3 separate regions of the Homo sapiens genome follow, and all the other regions are linked to region 1. The links come from fine-mapping of genetic effects on gene expression. A gene starts in region 1. Each other region holds a variant in brackets. All regions are shown on one strand. Distances are from middle to middle.

Evidence for each region. PIP is the estimated chance that this variant, and not a neighbour inherited with it, causes the effect. A credible set is the group of variants that fine-mapping cannot tell apart.
Region 2: its variant is the best candidate, but not a certain one, in a credible set for the expression of MELTF in monocytes after LPS (Quach 2016, PIP 0.81).
Region 3: its variant is the best candidate, but not a certain one, in a credible set for the expression of MELTF in whole blood (TOPMed, PIP 0.66).

What each region holds. Positions count from the first base shown.
Region 1 is chr3:197,027,343-197,031,546 of GRCh38, reverse strand. MELTF (melanotransferrin) reads left to right here and starts at 1,730. Exons shown (of 16, transcript NM_005929.6): 1 at 1,730-1,893; 2 at 3,637-3,791. The coding sequence starts at 1,845. RefSeq lists enhancers at 1-9, 1-313, 701-1,337, 1,338-1,974 and silencers at 1,508-1,997, 2,048-2,097, 2,288-2,467.
Region 2 is chr3:197,176,935-197,181,138 of GRCh38, reverse strand. The region is part of intron 5 of DLG1 (discs large MAGUK scaffold protein 1); the gene reads left to right. Among named protein-coding and RNA genes, the nearest start is that of MIR4797, 110 kb to the left of the region's middle. The variant A/G (reference allele first, on the strand shown) is at 1,885.
Region 3 is chr3:196,990,551-196,994,754 of GRCh38, reverse strand. It overlaps the pseudogene RPSAP30. Among named protein-coding and RNA genes, the nearest start is that of MELTF-AS1, 10 kb to the left of the region's middle. RefSeq lists a silencer at 3,663-3,957. The variant G/A (reference allele first, on the strand shown) is at 2,355.

The DNA of each region.
Region 1 (4,204 bases):
ATCAAACAGATCCTGCCAGTCATCTGGTGGCTCCTGGAGTGTGCCAACTGAGCCTTTCTATCCTCGTGGTCAGGAGAACGAGGCTTGTTAAGGACTCTTCTATTTATTCCATCTTCTTAGGACAAGCCATCAGCCCCTCTAGCAAGGCTGCCTGCTAGTCCATTCGGCACCTTTGTGCAAACTAGGAAGAAGGGATCCATCTGGGGGGATGGAGAAACAGCTTCCACAGCACAAGTCCTCCAGAGCAGACAGGAGACGGAAAGTATGGCACGTCACGGCCATCATGACCTACCTTTTACATGTGGGGAACAAGCCCAGAGAGGGCGACGAACTCGCCCAGGGTCTGTAAGTCGCTGGTTTTTAAAAAGTAGAGCTCGAGTCTCCTGAAGCCCAGCCCATGTTCCTTCCCCTGATCCAGTGTGTGATAAGCAGTAGCTTCATGGCCCCATAGGAGGGAGGCCTTCCTTCCCCAGGGCGCAGAGCAAGCTCAAGGACAGACAAACTCAGAGGGATGTCTTCTCTCTCACTGTTGTACTTACCCATGTCAGAGAGAGACATCATTTCTGAGTCTCAGAGGGGCTGATGACATAAAGGTGAGGCCTAAATGGAGGCAGGTGACTAACAATGTCTTCAGTTCATTCCCCGCATCCCCAACCACATGGGGAGTGCCGCTTTTGCCCGCCTGCGACAGTGGTTCTCAACATTTGCTGTGCCCCGAAATAAAAACAGATTGTGGGCCCCGCCCCCAGAGCTGTCGATCCAGTGGGTCGGAGGTGGGGCCTGAGCACTTGCATTTCCAGCAAGTTCCAGGGTGATGCTCACGTTGCTGGCCTAGGGACCACACTGAGAACCACTGTCCTAGAAATACGGTCAACCCACCCTTTCCTCCCTCACCTTCTTCACTCTCTTCCTCCCCTTCTCCGCCTGTTTCTCCTTTTCCGCTTCCTCCAATTCCTCTCTGGTCCTCTTCTCACCTTCCAATCAGCTGGCTCTGCCACTGACTGGATGCCTGACTCGGGCAAGTCACCTCCCGTCTCTAGGCCCGAGGAGAGGCAGTCGGCTAGGCCGAGATGCCCCTGCCCGGCTCCCCCCTCGCCAGGGCGCTCGGCCTGGGCTCCCCCGTATCCCAGATCCTCTGTGCAGCTGTGGCCGAGATGCCCCTGCCCGGCTCCCCCCTCGCCAGGGCGCTCGGCCTGGGCTCCCCCGTATCCCAGATCCTCTGTGCAGCTGTGGCCGAGATGCCCCTGCCCGGCTCCCCCCTCGCCAGGGCGCTCGGCCTGGGCTCCCCCGTATCCCAGATCCTCTGTGCAGCTGTGGCCGAGATGCCCCTGCCCGGCTCCCCCCTCGCCAGGGCGCTCGGCCTGGGCTCCCCCGTATCCCAGATCCTCTGTGCAGCTGTGCTGGGAGGGAGCTGCTGCGTGAATGAGATCATCCTCCAGCTGCCCTCCAGCCCCGACTCTGGGATTCTGACCTCTCCTTCCTTCCACGTCTGAGCTTTTCTCTCTCCAGTTAGACACGGTATCTGGAGTCTTTCTAGGGCGCGAGGAGGGGAGGATACCCTGGAACGCGGGGTAGGAGGCTGAGGCGAGAGCCCCGAGCAGCGGCGCCCGGGCCCGAGCGGGAGGCCTCCAGCAGGGGGCGCGCCGGGGCCGCCCAGGGGCGGGGTCCGGGGTCGGCGGGAGGTGACCTGCGCCCCAGGGGCGTGGATTCCGCCCGGGAACTCGCGGCCGCACTTAAGGAGCTCGGGCCAGCGCGAGGGGGAGCAGGGAGGAAGCCCGGCTGCTGCGGACCTCCTCGGACCCGGACCCAGCCCCAGCCCGGCCCCAGCCAGCCCCGACGGCGCCATGCGGGGTCCGAGCGGGGCTCTGTGGCTGCTCCTGGCTCTGCGCACCGGTGAGGCCCCGCTGTGAGAGCCAAAGGCGGGCGGGGGTCCCGGGGCGCCGCGGCCCGGCTGAGCAGGTCCCGGGGCTGGAAATGTGCCTGAGCCTGCGGCTCCGGGGCAGTGAGACGGGGGAGGCAGGGGCTCGGGGTCGAGTGAGGACGGCGGAGGGAACTAGCACTGAAGCGCAGACGGGGAAGTCTGGAAGGCTTCTTGGAGGAGGCGGCCTCGAACACCCGAGGCTTCCGACGCTCCAAGGAGAAGCGCGGGCTGAGGCGTGGTGGGGAGGCCTCGGGGTGTGGAGAGGAGCTCCCGGAGGGCGGCCCCTCCCGACGGGCGCAGGAACTCAGGAAGACTTTGGGGGCTCGGAGCAGCTCTTTCTCCCGAGCCCCCGCGGGAGAAGATTCAGAGGGACTGACCGGCAGGCGCGGGAGTCCGCCCGGGGGTTTCTGGCACATGCAGGGATGGAGGTGGAGACGGAGGCCGGGTCCCCTCGCGTCGGCGCCCCGGGGAGTCAGGGCCCGGGATGGTGGGACGGGAGGCGGGACCTCGGGGAGCGGCTCGCGGGGATCGCGGGCGGCGACCGCCGAGGGGATGGAGTTCGTGGCACCGCTGTGGCCGCAGGCGACGCACTCATCAATGCAAACGATGAAGCCACCGCCACCCCCGCCCCGTCTGAACTTTGCAGTTTCCCGCCTGGGTGGTGGGGGGCTTGGAGCGCTGCGGAGGGGAGGGCAGTTCGACTTCCCAGGCCTCCGCCAGGAGTGGGGAGGGGAGGGCTGTGGCGGAAGCTTCAGTCTCGGCCCTTGGGCTGGTGGGGCTGCCACGGGAGGGTGACCTGGTTTCGGGCGGAGTCATGCGTTTCCCTCCCTCCTGCACAGGCCTCTGGCAGTGCTGGCTGGGGCAGGGTGAATGGCAGAGGAGCTCAGGCCTGAAAGTCATCGGCCCCAAGGGGCTCCAGCACCCCTTCCTCTGGGCCCCTAGCCTGGGAGCTCTCGGGGACTCTGACCCGGTCAGATCCTGAGGCATAAGCAGAAGTCCACTGAGGATGTGGGTGTCTCAGGCTCTCTACAAGGGGGTTTACTTTCAACACAGAAGGTGGGGTTTTTATCTGCTCTCTCAGAAGATGAAGCAGGCTCAGAGAGGCTTGAACCTACCCTGATGGGTCCTCAGCCTCCCCTCTGTGCCTGCCGTCTTCCCTTGGCAGGGCCTGGCACTGTGCCCACCGAGGGTGGCTTTGCAGCCAGCATCATCGCAGACACTCCCCGAGGGGACAGGGCTCCTGGAGGGCAGCCCACCCACAGCCCCCTCACCTCACTCTCCCGTCCCAGTTCATGAGGAAGGCCCAGGGACACTGCTGGGTGAGGGAACCTACACGAGCACCCTCTTCGGGAGGCCTGGAGAGGGGAAGAAGCTTCCACTTCCAGGGCCTGCCGAGACTCCCTAGCCAGTGCTCCCACCAGGTGGGGGTAGCTGAGAAGCGACCTGTAGACCCTCCCATTCCTCCATAAAGGGCCGGGTTCTGAGCCATTCCATTTGCCAGCAGCCGTGCTCCTGGTCAGAGAGGCCCTGAGCACAGGAATACCAGCCCTTCCCCTGTCTCTGCGCCTAGTGCCTCCCTGTGGGAGGGCAGGGCTGCCCTAGAGGACTGGCTGTCCAGGCGAATGGGCTCACACAGAACTGCTGGAGCCACCCTCCATGGTGGGCCGGGGCTGGGCAGGGCGGGGGAGCCGGGCCTCACGGTCCCCTGCCCGCAGTGCTCGGTGGCATGGAGGTGCGGTGGTGCGCCACCTCGGACCCAGAGCAGCACAAGTGCGGCAACATGAGCGAGGCCTTCCGGGAAGCGGGCATCCAGCCCTCCCTCCTCTGCGTCCGGGGCACCTCCGCCGACCACTGCGTCCAGCTCATCGCGGTGAGTCCTCTCCCTTCCACCCTGCCAGACAAGAGGGCTGTGACTCAGGAGGGAGCACACAACAGCCCCATTCACCAGGAAAGGAGCCGACCTCGCCCTGCCAGGCCCGGCCGATAGGATCTCCCGAGTCTCCCTGGCCACGAGGCCAGCTTGCCTCCCGCCGGGCCCAGGCCAGGAGGTGGGAGCCTCAGGAGGACCCGCTGCTCAGAGGGCGCCAGCAAAGAAAGGCACCTGAGAGGCTTCCCTTCCACAAGGCCCCTGCCAAGGGGGCCCAGATGGTGGCGGCCCCTCAGTGGCCGCAGGCGGTTACTTGCTCATCTTGCCATGGGGCTCTCCAGAATGGGGCTTGTGTGGTTTCTGGGGAAGGAGGAGCAGGGGCTGGACTCCCAGGTGGGTGAGCATGGGGTAGGAGA
Region 2 (4,204 bases), 150 kb before region 1:
GAACCTGTACTTATTTTACAGATTCATTTAAATTGCTTGTCTGCTGGAGGTATTCATGTTCATAACTAAGATTATGTGCCATTTTCTACTATGATACTGGAACTCAGGAGGAAGTCATTAATGTTTTTTGAATGATAAGGAAACTGAGTGGTTATAAACTTTTGCAAGACACCTAGCTTCTCAGTTAGGGTTTGGCATGTAGTTGGTGTTAATAAATGCTTATAGAATTAATTAATTTTTATTCCATTCACCTCAAATGTTATCTCCTGGCCTTCCAAAATATGACACCTAATCTAATACCTCTTCAGTACCTGTATTGATTGGATCTTCTCTCTTCCCTCACAAGTGTCTTTGGTTTTTCACAGCAGCCCATCTCCTTTTCCACTGCCTTTTCTTCCCCTCCATTCTTCATACTATCCTCCAGTCACACTGCCCCGATTCCCCTGATTTCCTCACCCCTTTCAGTCCCCACTCAGTAGTGATAACCAAATAGCTTACACACTGTCTCTCAGTTTTATCATTTCATTGTATCTCATTTTACATTGTGGGTTTTTTGAGAGGTTGTTTTATTTTTTAATGTTAAATAAAAATGAGTTTCTTATGAATTACATTGGTGAAACTTTTTCAGTTTGAGGCTTCATAGTGTTTTTGTCCTTAATTTCAAACGATTAGTATAGAAAAAGTTCTCTATGCATTGCGAAGCCCTCCTTGGTTCCGCACCCTCAGCGTCCCTCCTATTCTTGTGTTGAGGGTCACTCAATAATCGGCCCCGTCCTACTTAGCATACACAGTCCTGTTCCAATCTGGGACCAGTTTTTATATTCAGCAGGGTTTTATAGAACTCCAGCACAGTGCTGCTAGACTTTACTTGATTAACGCCTAGGTGAAAAGTTTTATTTACTTAGTGATATCGACGTTTATTAATGTCAGTAGTAATCATATGAACTTTAAATAACTGTGAAGTGTTCAGTCATTTTGAATGTGTGTATAGCAGCTATTCATACATTTTGGACTACTTGAAAATCTCAACATATAGAGCACTATAAATACTCAAAAAGCCCCCCCCCCCCCAAAAAAAAAACACAACATGCCAAATTAAGCTGAGAGCAGCAAAGCTGTATTCTTAGGAATATGGAACAGACATGAAAACTTGTCAGAATTGAAATAGAATAATAAAGTTTTCTTAAAGAGTAAATATTAGCTGAGTTGAATAATCTGCTTAGAGGAAAAACCCTGTCCTAAGTCAAAAATATAGGAAAACATTGTTCAAGTGCCTGTGTGGAAAAATATTTAGGCTAATTTGTACACTTTAAAAAATATTGTTTGTCTGAAACAGATGCCTTCTGAGTTATAGAGGATTTAATTTTTAGAGCTATGCATTGGATATATTGTCCAATAGAGAGAATAACAGTATCAGTGTCATTGAGTCACTTCTACCAAATAATTTAATGTATATATTAATAAAGTACTTAGGACAGCATCTGACACAGAGTAAGTGCTACATTAGAGTTAGGTGCCCCTGTTAGCTTATTTTTATATCATTTAACTCTAATAGTATATGAACAAATTCAGATATAGATTATTAGGAATTATTGCACCTAGGATAGCGCAGTACATTCAAACATTCAGTAAATATTGTTGACTGATTAAGTTAATTTGTAAGTACAAGCCATCCACTTTTTTTAAGAACCAGAGATCTCAACACCTTTAATTACAGGATTTAAGGGAGGTGCCCCAAAGAGCCTTTGAAATTCTTGATGAGACTACCAGTTTTTTGACCTTTCCTCCCCTCCTAGCACTCCCTTCTACAAATTGGTGAAAACCAGTCACGTGTAGATGACTAAATTTAAGTGATTATCCACTTGGTACCAAGCTCCCCTAAGC[A/G]TCCCCCAAACATATCATGAGGACTATTTTTAGATCCTAAATCCCTTTTAGCCTGTCACCACAGAAAGTCCAGACCATCCGGATTGCAGCTCTGCCTTCTCTATACCAACTCGCAGACTGCACGTTAAACTTCCAATACCTGATTCCTGGTCTTATTCTCAAATAAATAATCTTGCTTTGTGTTCCAGCCTGCTAAAATAAATGAACTGTGTGCCTAAAGCTTACCCATATTCACTTCTGTACTAGATCGTAGTCCCTTTGGTTGTTCAAGAACTTCTGAAATCCCTTTCTCTCTTCACTGCATCATCTGTCTTGCCTCTGTACTGCCCCTAGACTTGCCTCTATAAGTCCTATCAGGATGTACACCTGCTATAATATCTTTCATTAAAACAACCATCCAAAAAACCCTCGTTGTGTGAGTGTAGATTATCAAATCCAGTGGCCAGTTCTCAGTGTTCATTTTACTTGACCCTACAACAACTGTTAACACAATTGATTACTCCCTCCTCTAAATTCTTTTTTCTCCTTTGACTCGTGGATAGTACTGCTCTTTTAATATTCTACCAGCCTCATTTTCCTTTATAGTATCCTCCTTTTTCCTACTGCTAAATGTTCAAATGTCTCAGGGCTCAGTCTTTGAACTCTCTTTTTATACTCACATTTCAGGTGATCGCATCTAGTCCTATGCCCTTAAATACCATCAGTATTTCTCTTTATTCCAGAGTTAATCCCTGTACATTAGACTTTTATATCTAACTTTCTACTCAGTATCTCCACTTCGGTTAAGCATCTGAAAGGTAACATATTAAAAAGAGAATTTCTAGTTTTATTGGTCTCAATCTTCTTTATTCAGTATGCCATTCACTAAGATGCTGAAGACAAAAACCCTTAAAATTATCTTTTATTCCTTTTTTCTTTGCTCCGTATCCAGTCTGATGCCAAATCCTGTTGGCTTTTTATTCAAGATATATTTATGATTTGGCCACTTTTCAACACTTCTGCAACTACTGATTCAATAATATGTTGCCTGAACTACAGCAGTAGACATCTAACTTCTCTCGTTAATATTTTTTGCTTCCTCTAAGGTAGCACCCCTTCACTCCAGACATTACTCTGTCTTCTTACCTGATTCTTTATTATACATTTTTTACTGTCTTTTTACTTGACTGTCAGCTCCATGTGGGTGGGATTTTTCTGTTATGTTTATTGTTGTATCCTCAGTTTCTGTGACAGTGGCTGGCACACTGTAGATAACCAGAAAATATTTGTTGAATGAGTGAAGAGACAGGGACATACGAACTTGTGCTAAGGAGGGCCCAAGCAGGTGTGTTTGTCTGTCTTTTCCCTTAGACTTTCTGTGAAGCGCGCATCACACTTTATTTAGCATTGTAATAGTTCTCTAACTGATGATTCTTACTTGCCCTCTGAGAAGAAATACACACAAGGAAATGAGGTAGGGAGAGAAGAGAATTCAATTTCCTCAAAACTGGGATAACTATATAACTCAGACCAAACTAGGATACTTTAATGAAAAGAGGGAATCATTAATAATTAAAGTGAGACAACAGGCATAAATACAGACTTCCCAAGTAAATAGAGGCATATGGGGTCACTCTGTTATAACCATTTATTTTCTGACTATTCCCACCAGGCAACAGGTCTGAAATTCACACCAAGACATCTCCATCTTGGACCATCCTAGATTGATTGACCTAACCGTGTTATCGGTACATACCACATTCATTTTGTCTCATGTGTAATGATAATTGTGTTTTGATAAAATATTTTTTCTTCATCTCCAAGGAATGGAATTGTTCATATTCATTAGTGTAGTGCTTTTGTACTAAAAAGTAGACTACGTATAGGGTAGGTAGACAATCTTCTTAAACTGCTTTGAAAATACTGACTCTAATTGATAGGTTATTTTCCAGAGAAATTGGTGGAAATAGTCTCCTTTGGTATTGACTCCCCAAACATTCACAGTTTGGATGGAAACGCTGTTGTACTGGCTGTGAGATGCTGACCCTTGGCAGACACATTTGTTTCTTAATTTTCTACTCAAAAGGCTACTAACTTTGCGAAATTAATATGATGACTCAGACTTGGAAATCAATTGTTCCCCCTTTGACACAAAAAATATTGTAGGATCTATTTTATGTTTCTGTTTTTCTGGAAACTTTTACAGTGCACCTACATGTACTGACTCAAAAATTGGTTCTTAAACACTGTTTCAACACATTTTTATCATTTGTACAATAAATAAAAATAAATAAAAAATAATATAAAAAATAAAAATAAAATTTATATCATTTGTTCAATA
Region 3 (4,204 bases), 37 kb after region 1:
ACGGAGGGACAACTGTGGGCCCTGAGTGACAACGCTGTGTAAAGGAAGGGCTGTGAATTGTGACACACGCACCACTCTGAAGGATGTAGTGAGAGCTGTGCCTGTGTAGGGGCGGGAGGTAGATGGAAAAATCTCTGTACCTTCTGCCCAACTGGCCTGCTCTTTAAACTGCTCGTAAATATAAAGTAAGTCTGTGTTTTTTTAAAAGGCCTCACCCGGCCAATATATAGGCCACAGTCTGATAATGGAGAAACTACCCCCATCGCCTCCCAACCCCCTTTCTTATTATCCACCCCTGACCAAGTGCATGAGAATTGTCACCCCTATGGTCATCTGGCTGTGGGTCTCTCCCCTTCCAACTGTGAGCTTGACTTCTTCGATCCCACCGTCTCAGTTCCTGTGCTGGGGCCTGCAGAGAAGCAGCGGCACTAGGCCAAGCCTTCCTTCCCACCGGGATGCCCTCGGCCTCCCAGCCGCCTTCGGCCCGAGTTTCTTTAGCCCACTTGCCTCCTGGAGGAAAAGCCGAGCCCCCTGCAGAGCTGCAGGCCGTCCTCAGGCCCCCCAGACTCCAGCAGGAAGCCGAGCAGACTGTCATGGGGACGACTAGTCACGACTTTAGATATGGACTCGGGGCAAGAGCCCCTCTCTGCCTCTCACACAGAACTTCCCGAGGAGAAAGCTGTCTCCTCGTGTGTGTGATTCTGCTGCCCTGGCCCCTTGGGGAGGAGCCCTGGATTTCCTGAAAATGAGGATCTGCCATTGCAATGAGGCAGCACAGTACCCCTGCTTGCTGTAGGGATTGTTCTTGAAGACCAACCTGCTGAAATGGACCTAAGACAGCAGCTGGACAAATGGCCAAGACAGAGGTGTCATCGTGCCCGTGCCTCAGTTTTTTGTAATAAGAGACATACTGGAAACAGCCTAAATGCCCAGTATTAGGTTGGGTAAATGAAACACGGTTCATACCTTCATTCCCAGTGGAATGCAATGGATGATGGTCTACAGCTGTTAAATGAAGGGTGCAGCTACATTTACCGATGTGGAAAGAGTTCCACGGCATATTGTTGAGTAAAAAGAGCAGGTTATGAAACAGTATATAATCCCATTATCATAAAATCTCACATACAAACTCACACGCACACTCACACACACAGAGCTGTCTGGAAATCTGTTCACCAAACTGTTAACGGTGACTAGCTCCAGTTGGTGGAATTTAAGGGGTAATTTTTACTTTCTTTAAACTTTATTTTAGTTTCTTTAACTCTTTGTTTTGAATTTTAAAGCCTTTTAAATATCTAATCAATATCATTTTGGAATGAATAAATAAGCAAGCAAATACAAAGTAAAAGAGCTGGGCACAGTGGCTCACGCCTATAATCCCAGCACTTTGGGAGGCCAAGGCAGGTGGATCATCTGAGGTCAGGAGTTCAAGACCAGCCTGGCCAACATGGCAAAACCCTGTCTCTACTAAGAATACAAAAACTAGCCGGGTGCGGTAGCGGGCACCTATAATCCCAGCTACTCAGGAGGCTGAGGCAGGAGAATCGCTTGAACCCGGGAGGCAGAGGTTGCAGTGAGCCGAGATTGCGCCACCGCACTCCAGCCTGGGCGACTTAGCAAGACTCCATCTCAAAAACAACAACAACAACAAAAAGTAAAAGTAAAACTTCCACTGTCCCAAGCACAGTCCCAATGTCACCTCTCAACTCTGAACAACGCAGGTGGCCTCAATGAGGAGGCTGAGGAGGCTGCGGAAGGAGCTGCAGCTTGGGGCTACTCAGTCCTGGATGTGGACGTGGGGGATGTGGCCCTGTGACCAGCTGTGTGGCCTTCAAGCTGTCGCTTAGCCCTTCAGAGCCTCCACGTCTTCCCTGAGTGCCTGCCTGTGGGCTGGCTGGGAGGGGATGCAGGGAGGCACCCACAGCCCAGAGGCTCCTCAGGGCTCCACAGCCCACAAACGTGTGCCTGAGCAACGTCCTCTCCAGCTTCCCCAACTGCTAATGGTCCTGAGTGCACACTCCTGCCAGGCTGGGGCAGACGCAGGAGGAAGAAAGGGAAGTCTAGGAGACAAGGGCATCCTGAGGAAAGTAGACGAAAATCCAGGCCCAGCTGGGTCAGCGACAGGTGCCCTAGCATCAGAACCTGGGAGGGCTCGGGGGAGGAAGGGGAGGGCCTGAGCCCAGGATGAAACAGGCCGCTTCGGGCAGCGTGGGCCCCAGAAGATCTCCTCCAGCCTCCTCCATCCACTACCCTTCGCTTATTCACACTGTTGGCTCCAGGGCGCTCCCATCCCGCCCAAACCCCTCTCCCTAGTTCTCGGGCTTGTGTAGGATGCTAGAGCTGGAAGGGACCGC[G/A]GTGAATCAGCTTGGCCAATCAGCTCGCCTCACCCCCTCACAGTTCAGGAAACCAAAGCGTTTAGGAGACAGGGCTTCCTGCTGATGAGGACGCAGCCATCACAGCTCCGGACTTGAACCCAGGGTCTGGTTCCCGGCTGTGGCGTAACAGGACACAGTGTGCGGGACCAGCCTCCATCAGCACATCCCTCCCACCAGCTCCCCACCCGCTCTCCGCCGGGCGAGTGGGAACAGCTGTGCCACAGCCATGTGCCTGGTCCTGCTTGCCAGCTGGCCGGCAGGGGACGCAGCACCAAGATCCCATTTTAGAGTCTGTTCCTAGGATCCTTCCTGGCACCAACTGTCACAGGTTGGGTTCCCAGGAAAACACTCGAGGACGGAGATTTGTGTGCAGGCTTCTCAGGGAGTGCTCTCACAAACAGTGCCTGCCAGGGGGTAAGAAGCCACGGGACGGGCAGAGAGAGGAGTGAGTGCCATGCAGTAGCCAGGAAGGCCCCGGCTGGTGAACCTTCCGAGTTATCTTGCCTTGAGGCAAGAGGGCCTGGCCTTTCTATCCCTACGGCAGCCCTCATGGACACAGGTTTGGAGATGGGGGCGACCTTGAGCAAGGTGGTTCTCTTCAGCTGAGGGCACCTCCCAGAGAGAAACCCAGCTGGGCCCCACCAAAACCATCAACACTCCCGGAAGCTGCAGGAACCAGAGCCTCTGCCCTGAAGGGGCACTGGCCAGGGCCCCACAGCGGCCACTACAGAGAGGGTGGTGACCTGCCCTGAGATCAGGTCGCCCGTGAATGGTGGCCCTGAATTCACTTCCAGAGCACCAAAGCCCACACCTTAATCCCAGTAAACATATGAATATCTGACACTTAGAGGGTGGGCTTATGTGCACTAGGCCCTGCCTATAAATCTCATTGTTTAACCCTCAAAGCAACATCATGAAGTATCAGTATTCAAGACACAGTTTACAGATGAAGAAACTGAGTCTTGGAGATGATAGGTGATATGTTTGGCTGTGTCCCCACCCAAATCTCATCTTGAATTGTAGTTCCCATAATCCCCACAAGTCATGGGAGGGACCCGGTGGGAGGTGATTGAATCATGAGGGCGGTTCCCCCCGGGCTGCTGTTCTCGTGATGGTGAGTTCTCCTGAGTCTGGTGGTTTTATAAGGAGCTTTCCCCCCTTTTGCTCAGCACTTCTTTCTTCTCCTTCTGCCATGACTGTAAGTTTCCTGAGGCTTCCACAGCTCTGCACAACTGTGAGTCAATTAAACCTATTTTCTTTATAAATTACCCGGTCTCAAGTATGTCTTTATTAGCAACATGAGAACGGGACTAATACAACGGGTAACTTGCCCAAGATCACTCGGCTAATAAGCCAGATTGAAGCCCAGGCAATCCGATACCAGAGCCGCTACATGATCAGGCCACACTGATACACTGGACCTTGCCCGGTAGCTTGTGGATAACATCCATTTCAGGGAGAGAGTGGTGAACTTTGACCTTGGCAGGCTGGTGGTCTGCAGACTGATAGTGGCTCCAAGGAGGCAGAAGCTGCCTGGGATCTTTCCATCCCCGCAGCCTCCCTGCCCTAGTCCCCGTGAGCTCCAGTGCCCAGGGGGGCGCAGCCGGGCCGGAGAAGTCATCCCCCTCAGCCCTGCTCACAGCCCATGTCTGTAGAGCAGCAGGTGCCGATACCAGCCAGGCAGCCTGGGTTTGGCCACACAATCTCTGCAGAGCCCTGGTGCCTTGGTTTACAGAGCTGTAAAACAAGAGATTGTCCCTATTATCATCAAGCTCGTGGCTCCCTCGGGTCTCTCTGAGAGGGGTGCTGGTGAAAAATGATGATGGCAC